Regions from separate parts of the Homo sapiens genome. Here region 1 is linked to region 2. The links come from fine-mapping of genetic effects on gene expression. A gene starts in region 2. The other region holds a variant in brackets. All regions are shown on one strand. Distances are from middle to middle.

Region 1 (5,382 bases), 38 kb before region 2:
GGAAAGAAAATGACATCTCTAACAACTGGAGCCTTGATGAGGGAAGGGGGGTCAGGGAAGAGGGGCAGGGTCTTGCCTCCTCTTTTGCCTCCCCATTGGCTCTTGGCCTACCCCAGAGACGGAGGGAAACACATTTGTGAATGAGGTGCCTGTTCTGCCTGTTCCTGAGGAGCAACACCCCCCTAGGCTGCCCGATGATTTCCAGAAGACAAAGGAAGCCTTAAACTGACATGCTTAGAAGACTTCCAGGGTTGTTTACTCTTCCATTACTTTTTACCTTCAAGAATTTGATCAACCACTTTAAATGCTTCGTCAACATTTCCATATTCCAGTTTCCTTTCTGGCTTGAAGGAGGAGTTGTGTTGTATACTTTCCTAGAAAGAGAACAGAGGAATGAGGCAGCTTGGGCAAGAGACCCTGCCCTAGGGCAGCAGACACACCCCACTGCACATCCTCTGAGCAGGGGTTGTTTCTCCCTTCACCTTGTGGTTCCGTGCACTTTCACCATGACCCTGGTGAGCCAAGCTAAGAATCCAACTGCAGAGAGACTCCCCAGTGAGGAAATGTAAATGTGCCTACTGAGTCTGAAGAAATAATATGCACAGAAAAAAACTGGCATCTAAGTGATCCCAGAATGAAACTAGTATTTTCCAGGCAGGTTATTGTCTGCACACCACAATCCATTTCATGTAGCCAAGGCCATACAGCACAGGGCTTCAGAGCCTGGGCTCTAGACCCAGTCAGCATTGTGCACACATTTTTCCCACTTACCAGCTTTGACTGTGGGCCTATCACTTCACCTCTCTTATCATTGTCTGTAAAATGGAAGTAACAGGTGTGCATATAGCTCCAATAGGATCGTGGTTGGTGAAGATAAAATGAAATAAGACGTGAAGAGCTTATATTGCATATAGTAAACACTCAATAATTGCTAGTTGAAAAGACTCTAGTGATTGGGATCATGGTGGCTCTGCCTGCCAGCCCCATATTCCTTCTTTGTGGGGATGAGCATTTCATTTGCACAGGGCAGTAGAGCACCTGGGACCTCCAGCTCTGGAAGTAAGATTTCAGACAAGCCCTGTCTGGGAGCTGGGTGTACAAATCCATTTATACACTAGCTCCTATTGGCTCTCCCTGGGTGCCCAGTAAAAGGGTACAGTGGTGCACAAAACCAGAGATGTAGTTACAATAACATAGGTTGGTTTTTAGCTATCCCTGAGAATTTATCTTGCAGTAATCCATGTGTCCACTGGCAAATGTGGTGTGCCAGCTCCTGCTGGCATTATCTACTGTGGGTTATTGTCCATCCATGAAATTCCATTCTGTTGGTAGTTGGGGATTCTCTTATCTCTGTTTCCTTCTGGCCACCAGTAGGTGTCTAGACAACACCCCTTAGAGGGATGGGCTATTGTGATTCTGCCATTTCCCCCATTCAAAAACTGGGTTGGTTTGTTTATAGCACCGGTGGGGCCCAGGTTCTTTGACAGAGTGTTTGTTGATTGTTTTTGTTACTGACTAGCTATGTAACCTTGGGTAACCCTGCCTTTTAGTTTCCCCATCAGAATGGGGATAAAAATAGTTTTTGCCTCATAGGATTGTGGTGAGCATTTAGTAAGTTAATGTGTGAAACTGACCTAGAACCATGTTGACCACACAGTGAGCTCTGTATAGGTCCTAGCTATGCTCATGTTGTTGTTGATGATTATTATTCAGGACAGATTCCGGTAGGGAACACATTTTTTTCCATTATGGTCATCAGCCTTACCCCTTGATTCAAGAGTTTTGATCGTTGCCCCATTCAATCTACTAAAAACTCGAAAAGCATGTGCCAGATTAAATCTTTGTGATAGTGACAGAGATATATTTGTTTTTGTTCTATTTTGATTGATAACACACTTCCTATTGGAATCTGTTCATGTGCTTTTCTTATTAATCTAAGATTAAAGAGATTCCAGGTTGAAAAAAAAGCTAGGTTTTATAAATCCTATTTTTAAAAGTTTCATCTTTTTCAACTTCACTGGCTGCTTGCTCTTTGAATAACTTTGAGCCAATTTTCTGAATTTTTCTTAGTCAGGAAAGTGATAAAAGAACTGTAATGTATAGGGAGAGGGGCATATTTCCCTGCTCTAAACTTTGATTAAATTTGCTCTGATCCAGTTGATGATCTTTAGACTTTGAGAGCTTAATCTCTGAACACAATGTGAGGCAACTCTTTTCCACAAAGCCAGAGCTTGTATCTGATGCTGGGATTCTCTGGCAGACAATCACGAGTCTGCTGGTTGAAGTGGTGAGGGTGGGGGGAGTGGCATCTATTATATTTGCTTATTGGGGCTTTTATTTGGCTGGAAGGTAGGGGGAGTGGAGAGTAGATATTTAGCCCCTGATATTGGGCAAAGATTTATAAACAAAATATTGATGAAGTGTTACGTAAATAATTTCTAATAAGTAATTCTAACTCTCCAGCAAACTTCAGGGGACAGAATATATGAAGCAAGAGCAGCATGCAACATGTAAATGAAAAGGGCCTGAGAAGGGAACAGAGTGTTTGAATTTGAAACTGGCCAGGAAAATTTGGGAGGCCTAATCACACTTCGACTCCAATTAGACTTCTACGTTTTTGTCTATTTGACATGATTTTATTTTTATTTTAAAATGTAAGAAAAATTCCCAGAGACAAACTCCATGTTCCTAAGCATCAAGCAGCATGGCAAGAAGCACCCCCAACACCCAGTTCTCCTGGAGACACTGATCGTGCCCAGGTTGTTTCCTCAATTCTGCCTCAGGCCATGCCGGTCACCCAGAGAACAACATGTTCATTATGCTGTGAAGCTAATATTGTGTCCCAGAGCACATGCGGCCTGTATGGACTGAGTCTCATCTATTTACACTGCCTCCCCAGTGTTCATTCTTTCATCATCCAGGAAATTATAAGAACCAATGGAATGCACACAAGAGAACATCCTATCATTTCATGGAGATGAGTC[T/G]TATAGCCTTTATAAATTTTCAACTCCTTTCTAAAAATCAGGATAGAAAATGCAATTCTCCAGTTTAAGTTGCCAAAATACCTGTAGGCATCATACGACTTATCTCTTGAAAAATCTAAAAATCGTGTCTCTGACACTCACTTCATGGAACATCCTGTTGGTCCTCACCATGTGCCTGGGTGAAGGTGGGTAAAAAGTCATAGAGTGGATCCACTTTCCTGGACATCACTGTTTCCCATCTAGCATCCCCTCCCCTTTCCCTTTCCAAACAGGGCTCAGATTTGTTTCAGTTTCCTACACTCCCCTACATAGCCCACTTACTTCAGAGAAACCTGACCCCAACTCCTACCCCTAGAAGTAACCAACAGCTCCTCCATTCCTCTGCCAGTCATTAATTTGGAGATGGATATGTGACCTAAGTGGCTTAATTAGGCTGGATCTCAGGATTTGTGCTTAGAATGCTGGGGCAATAGGGTTCCTCTTACTCCTTGAACATGAACAAGGAAGTCCAGGTTGTCCTGGCGGCCATCTGTGTGACCACAGGAATTGAGCTTGTATTGTGGGCAGCAGAGAAGAGTGGCAAAAAGAAGCCATGTCCTTGGGGAAATTGTTAATACTGAGACTGGTTAGAGGTTAATAAAGTCCGTGTGCTTTGGAGGCCACTTTGAGCCACATTTTCCTGTTACAGTAGCCAAAAGCATTTTAACTGATATTTGTTCTGGCTCCCAACTGGCACCACCATTCCACAGAACTCATTACCTCAATTGTTAGTATCAGCGGCTCCAAGTCTTGATAGACAATCTTCACTCGCTTAGCAGCTCGCTTTGCCTGAACCTCAGAATCGGCAAGCACAGCACAGACAAGCTGACCCACACAGAACACCTACGACACAGAAAGACCTTTGTTGTCAAGGAGGGCAGGCATCAGGTCCTCTCTTTTATTCATTTTCTTCCTCCCTCCTAGTACTCGATTACAGTAGGGCTAGGGCTAGATACACACAGGTGTGACCCCTCCACATCTGTCCATGACTATAACCACAGCTGGCCTCCTGATCCGAGGCACTGGGGGAAGTTTAGATCCTTGTGCTGTATCAGAGGAGCAGGAGTGATGCTGTCTTGAGGACAGCAGGCTCAGGCTCCAGGCCAAGCCTATGAGGCTGTGTGAGGGCCAGCCTGTCCCATGGCTTGATGTTTGGCTGTCACACGACAATCAGAGCTGTTCTGAGAGAGGCAGCCTCTGCCTGCACGGACAGGGAGGACCAGGAAGTCACAGATCATCTCAACCAGAGAGAAAAAGGGGATGACCTGGGAAGGGGAGTCCCCTGTGATAACAGAACCCTGATGGTGAGCACATCTCTCCTCACAAACTGTCTTTTCATGAAAAGATGTCCTAGCCAAGACGTGACCAAGCAGACAGCATCCCCTTCCTGGGGGGGTTGACAGCTAGGATTATTCGCCTGCAGGTGGGGCAGCTAGGCTCAGGAGTTCACACAGGGACCACAGCAGAAATTTAGATGGGGAAAAGAAACCTTAAGACTTGAGAAAGGTAAAAACAGTCTGGACTGGAAGAAGTCACCATCATTGCTGAGTTCTCTCTCCTACTTTATGCTGTGATTCACAATTTCAATGTAATCACTCATTTTAAAAATTGACTTTGAACTATTATGTCTTTTCCACAATGAACATAAAGTAGTTTTATCATCGAAAAAAAGGCATTAAAAACATAAAATCTAGCATGAACACAAAAAAAGTGTGTTTGTTTGGGGTAGGGGCAGTGAAGGAGAGAAAAATGAAACAAGAATGGTAACGTGTTGATAACTGTTGAAGCTGGGTGATGGATCTATGGGGTTCATTGTATAATACTTTCCCATTTTTGTGTATGCTTACAATTTCTACAATGAAAAGACTTTTAAAAGCCATTAAGTGCCATAAATGAATGTTTTAAAAAGCATTAAACCAACAAAGGCAATCATTCACAATGGCACTCCAAAGACTCCTGATTTTGCTCCTGTGACCTGGCACATAGATGTGGCCCCTGAGATGCTTATGATCTTCATAAGCACACCTCAAAGAGCAGGTACTATCATGCAGCCAAGATCAGTTTCACTTGTTTAGTAAACATTTATGCAAAGGGCTTAAATTCTCACCGTCTCTGCCAGTGCTACACAGCCCTGCTTTGGGGGAGTTTCAACCTTGAGTTCAAACTCTCAGTCATCAAGCTTTCATTTCTACAGATAATATCTTCAAGGGAGTATCTTCCAAGGAGAGCCAGAGGAAGGGACTGTTTCAAATTATGAAGCCCTTTTGGGTAAACACTGAACTGAGCAGTCCGAATTATGCAGAAAACCTGTTGACTGCTGTTCTTGCTGTAGCCAAAGTTTTAATCATTTGTAATTTTC
Region 2 (5,382 bases):
TTCCACACCTCATTGCCTCATGAAATGACATGCTTCATTTCCTGAGTTGAGGTTGTTATGTGGCATCTATGGCAGAATTTATTCATGGGCTCTTCCTCCCTTAAACTCCATGTTAAATGGGTCATCTGTTCTTCTGGGGGCCTTGGTAGAGTGAATAAGATTTCAGAAATCTCTCTGCAACTAGGTCCCTGGCCAACGTGCGCTGTCCTTGCCTCCAGATGTCGTTACCTTCTGCCTGAGGACAACTTTTGGTGACCTGAGAAAATTTAGCAAAAAGCAGAATAGAAGCCAATCATGTCACCTATTTTCTCCTAAGTGGCTTCACTTCTAAGCTTCTTTTTCAAAGGTGAGTTTTTAATTCCAGAGATTGTGTTTGACTTCAAAAGCCCTCTTCTAGGGTGGATTTTCTCTCACACTCTTCTCAACAATCCCTTACTCTCTGGAACGAAAAAGTTTATGCTAGGCTGGGCACAGTGGCTCAAGCCTGTAATCCCAGCACTTTGGGAGGCCGAGTCAGGGAGATCACCTGGGGTCAGGAGTTTGAGACCAGCTTGGCCAACATAGTGAAACCCCATCTCTACTAAAAATACAAAAATTAGCGTGGTGGTGGGTGCTTGCAGTTTCATAGTCCCAGCTACTCAGGAGGCAACAGAGTGAGACTCGATCTCAAAAAAAAAAAAAAAAAAAAAGCTTATTCTAGTTCTTTCCATGTAAGTAATCAGGCTTGTTTATTAAGTACCGAAGCACACACCTAACAGAATTTAGAAGGGAGGAGAAGGAAAGGGAAAGATTAACACAATTTCTTCTAATGGGTAATTGCAAAAACAGAATCAATATCTCCAGATTATACTTTACAAATAACCACAGGACATTTGGCCCATAGACAAAGTGAGTCCGTAGATAAGAACTAGCTTATCTAATTTTAAAAATCAATAGAGCACAAACTTGTTGGCCATTATGTTAAAAATACCAATATTTGTTTGGAAGTGGGGGAAGGAGAAGCGAGGAGATGTTAGACTCACAATCCCTGTTTCTTCATTTAACCCAAACCCTTACCATCACCTATAAAGCCCTAGTAATCAGGCCACTGCCCATGTTGCCAGGCCCACCAACCTACCTCCTTAAGCACACAGAAATCCTCCTACCTCAGGACCTTTGCACCTGCCATTCCCACTGCCTGGATGCTGTCTCCCCAGATGTTTGCATGGCTTGCTCCTCACTGCATCCCAGTCACTGCTCAAATGCCACCCTTTCAGACAGGCCAAAACATCCATCCCCTCTAAGTATCCTGCATACTCTCTGTCCCCACGCTGTGCTTTATTTTTTATATTAGCACTTCTCACTTCCTGACATTACACATTTCCACGTATTTATATGCTTGCTATCTCCCCAGCACAATGTAAGCTCCATGCACGCAAGGACTTGTTATTTCTGTGCTCTGCTGTATCTCATAAGCCTGGAACACTGACTGGCATACGGTAGGCCCTTAACAAATAAGTGGATTGAATGCTCATGATCACTCTTTATGAAGTAAGTGGTATGATCCCCTTTTAACAGAGAAACTGGGCCTCTGAGAGGTTAGGTTTTCTCAATCAGAATTAGAATTGGAATTGAAGACTTGTTTGTCTAAACAACAAAGCCAGTGTTGTGTTTACTATACCATTCTATTATGCAAAAGAAGAAAAAAATGACATAATGTCAATCATCTCACCCCATTGTCATATTTCACCCTCACAGCAGTCCTGTGAAGGGGTCCTAATGACCCTTACAGATCAGGAAAAACTAGCTCATCTTATCCAATGTAGAACCCAGGCAGCAGGGGCAGACAAAGTTTTTGAGGGGCCTAATGTACAATTTGGGGGATCCTCTTTAAGAAACATAATACAAAACCACAAATGAAATTAGGCTCAGGGTCTTAGAACAGGCCTCACAACTAGGGCCTGGTGCTTCACACTGGTTAGCTTCCAGGGGAGGCAGCTGGTGCCCGTCGGGAAAAGTGTTGTGGCTGCCCTTAGCCAGAAGCAGTGGTCACAGGTGGCTCTGAATGAACCGGCACCAACACGAGCACCAGGGAAATCAGGTGCCACTGCTCTTGCTTGGTTGTTAGCTCTGTTTTTGTTGTTTTTAAGAAATAGGATCTCACTCTTTTGTCCAAGCTGGAGTGCAGTGGTGTGATCACAGCTCACTGTAACCTTGAACTCCTAGACTCAAGCAATCCTCCTTCACCCTCCCCAGTAGCTGGGCTGCAGGCACGCACCACCACACCGGTTTTTTTTTGTTGTTGTTGTTTTGTTTTGTTTGGTTTTTTTTTTGTAGAGACAAGGTTTCGCCATGTTGCCCAGGCTAAACTCGAACTCCTGGGCTCAAGCAATCCTCCTGCCTCGGTCTCCCAAAGTGCAGATTACAGGCGTGAGCCACAGCTCTCAAGGGAGCTCCTTAACCTTCCTGCCTCAGTTTCCTCCTTCAGAGTAATGTCAATGAAACTGGAACATTAAGAGTGAGCAGAGTTGATGCTCACATTAAGGGGGGTGTTTTAAAGGATGCCCAGGGGGCTTTGCTTCTCCCAAACATCGGACACTGCCTGGAACTGTCCCTCGGGTTGCGCAGAGCGAGCCCAGCTTCTGAGGCGACAGAGCCCGCACCCAGCAGTGGAACCCGTGAGGACCTTGGAGCCCCCAGAGCCTGACTTGGGTTCAGCTCTGCCAGGAACTAGCTGTGACTTTGGAAAGTAACGATTTCTTCATCTGAGAAACGATGGGGGTGGTTTGAATGTGTTCGTCTCTACGGTCTTGTCCCGAATCTAAGTTGCTCTCTGCGCTTCCAAACGCACCCCGCGAGCTGAGGCTCAGCCATTTCTGTAGGCTGCTCTCAGTGTACTGGGGACGTTCCCGTTATCGGCTGGGATTGAGGGAACGAAGATCTGGGAGTGCTGACCCCTGATGGGCAAGAATACTTTTTATCTTACTGTTTAGGGAGGGCGTGTGGTTGGAAATCAGCTTGTGAGCCTTGGAAGGAGAGGAAAGGGGAACATAAGGAAGGTGGGGGCCCAAAGATCCAGGACAGTCCCTGAAAACGCAGCCTTTAGCTGCCCCGGAGGCAGGGGTGGGAATGCGAAGGCAAAGCCGCTGTTACGGGAGAAAGCCAGTCCGTGCCTGAGTGCCTTAAACGGCGGGCACGAAAGGATGGGACGAACGGCAGGGGCTCCTCTCTGCCCCGGCCCTGGCCGCAGGTCTGGGGGCAGAGGAAGCCCGCGGGCGCTCACCTTGCGGCCGTTCACGTAGAAGAGCAGCTCGGACGCCCGGTCCATTGTGGTGTCCGCGCTGGTTCGAGGGCCCGGAGCGGGAGGCGGAGGTTCTGGGAAGTAGCGGGCACCTGGGACCCGGCGGCACCGACCCGCCGAGTGGGGCGGGGCTTGCTGGAGCCTAAAGTCCAACCCATCCACCCCGACGGAGAAAGCCTTGATTAAGATCCAACGTTCCTGAGCTCTTTGCCAGGAACTCTTCCCGGGACACCAGCACGTGTGTGGGCGTCACTGGCGCCCTCTATGTGGGCGGAAATCATCCGGCGAAGATGAAGACGACCCCTTCATCTCCTCGCCAGTGGCGCTTAGCGTCTGTGTCACACCCTCTTGCGTCTTAGCAAACATTGTAAGTCCTGGGACATTGCTTTTGATGGTCTTATGTTACTGCATATTTTAGGTGGTGTTCCAGCTGGATTTAAGTCTGGGAACATTAGTAACTCCCCTCCAACCAGGCCTGCTGTAGTCCTGGACTCTTAAGTGTAAACAATCATATTTATTCCAACTCTGCAAGAGCGGATCTTAGGGAAAACAAATAGGTTTACAACTTGATCTTTTAGAAATATAAGGTTGGTGCAAAAGTAATTGCGGTTTTTACCATCACTTCCAATGGCAACAACTGCAATTAATTTTGCACCAACCTAATAATTACTGGTTTTAAAATGAAGTGCTATCTTGATATAAACTTAAAAATTTTATCACTATTTACAGTTTATCCAGTAACTAACCACAAAGTTTATCTGGTAAATAAGAACAGAGATGTAAAACATCTTGGAAAACTTAAAAAAAAAAACTTGGAAAATACAGCAAAGCATAAAAATAAAGAACACCTGTAAGCCCACAACTTAGAACTTACCACCGTTCACTTTTTTAGTCTATCCTTACTTTTTGAAACATGTACTTTTAACACCTTTAAAAACTTAAGTGGGACAAACTAGTTATTTTCCAGGCTTTTTTCACTTGCCATACCTTAGAACATTTTCCCATGTTATTTCATTTATGTAAACACAAAAATTTTATTGTGAAATTTTCCAAACTTTGCACATAAAAGTGAAGAGTGCAATTGGCATCTACCTGCCCTTCACTGAGCTTTAACAATGGTCAACGTTTTGGCATACTCCATTTTTTGTAGTATTTAAAAGCCAATCCTGGACATATTTTAGCCCTAAATACTTCAAAAACACACATACACATCCTTTTAGTCAGCCGCAACACCATTTCACGTGTCTAAAAAATGTCTTTTACACTTGACTTCTTTGAATCAAACAAGAGCTGTGCAATGTATTTGCATGTGGTCTCATCAGTCTCTTTTGATCTAAAACAGACTTTTTAACACTATTAACACATTGAAAAAGAAACCAGGTCAGTTGTTCTATTGAAATGAACCATTTTTTGAATGTGGCTAATTGCTTCTCCCTGGTATTGTTTTTCTACTCTACTTATTTCCTATGCACTAAATATTAGATCTAAAGCTTTGATTAAATTCAGGTTCAATTTTTTGGGGGGGAGAGGGCAAGAACACTTCATAGGTGGTACCATATAATTAATATTGCAGCACAGCAGGAAGCATATGGTGTCTGGTTGTTTCATTCGTAATGATGCTAACATTGATCAGTGGGTTCAGAGGGCTATTCCTTTGTAATGAATTTCTCCATCAACATTTCACCTAATTGTTTTACATCCATTGTTGAGCATTGCCTGAGCGGTAGTTTTAATAGGGGTTTGCAATTTTTCTAATTCTAGCATTTCTTCTTCATTCATCAACTGGGATTCTTTGAATAAAACTATCCATCCTTCACTAGAGCTATTGACTAAACCCCTCCAGCACTCTGTACCCCCACTGCAGTCTCTCAAAGTGTGGTACTAGGACAATCCTCGGACGGACTCACCTGAAGCATCTGATTAAGATGCAGATTTCTGGGCCCACCGCGTTAGTGGTCAGATATTGTCTAAAAAAGTTTTCCATCTAGGTGGAATAGAGTTTGAGTAGTCATTTGAATTCAATAAACTGTGTATTGATCTCAGATATGAACAGGATTTATTACTACTTATTACTGGAAGAGTAAGTGATCTTTAAAACCAAA

Direction of the effects. Alleles are on the strand shown, and positions count from the first base shown. SD is a standard deviation of normalised expression in the study named.
For the expression in fibroblasts of the gene that starts at base 3,402 in region 2, G is the high allele of the variant in region 1 and T is the other (moderate effect, 0.43 SD a copy in GTEx).

Evidence for each region. PIP is the estimated chance that this variant, and not a neighbour inherited with it, causes the effect.
Region 1: its variant is fine-mapped to the expression of AOX1 in fibroblasts (GTEx, PIP above 0.99).

What each region holds. Positions count from the first base shown.
Region 1 is chr2:200,622,345-200,627,726 of GRCh38, reverse strand. AOX1 (aldehyde oxidase 1) reads right to left here. Exons shown (of 35, transcript NM_001159.4): 19 at 3,744-3,866; 20 at 278-374. Among named protein-coding and RNA genes, the nearest start is that of AOX1, 39 kb to the right of the region's middle. The variant T/G (reference allele first, on the strand shown) is at 2,985.
Region 2 is chr2:200,584,034-200,589,415 of GRCh38, reverse strand. It overlaps AOX1 (aldehyde oxidase 1), which reads right to left and starts at 3,402. Exons shown (of 35, transcript NM_001159.4): 1 at 3,263-3,402. The coding sequence starts at 3,307. It overlaps SGO2 (shugoshin 2), which reads right to left. Exons shown (of 9, transcript NM_152524.6): 9 at 5,320-5,382.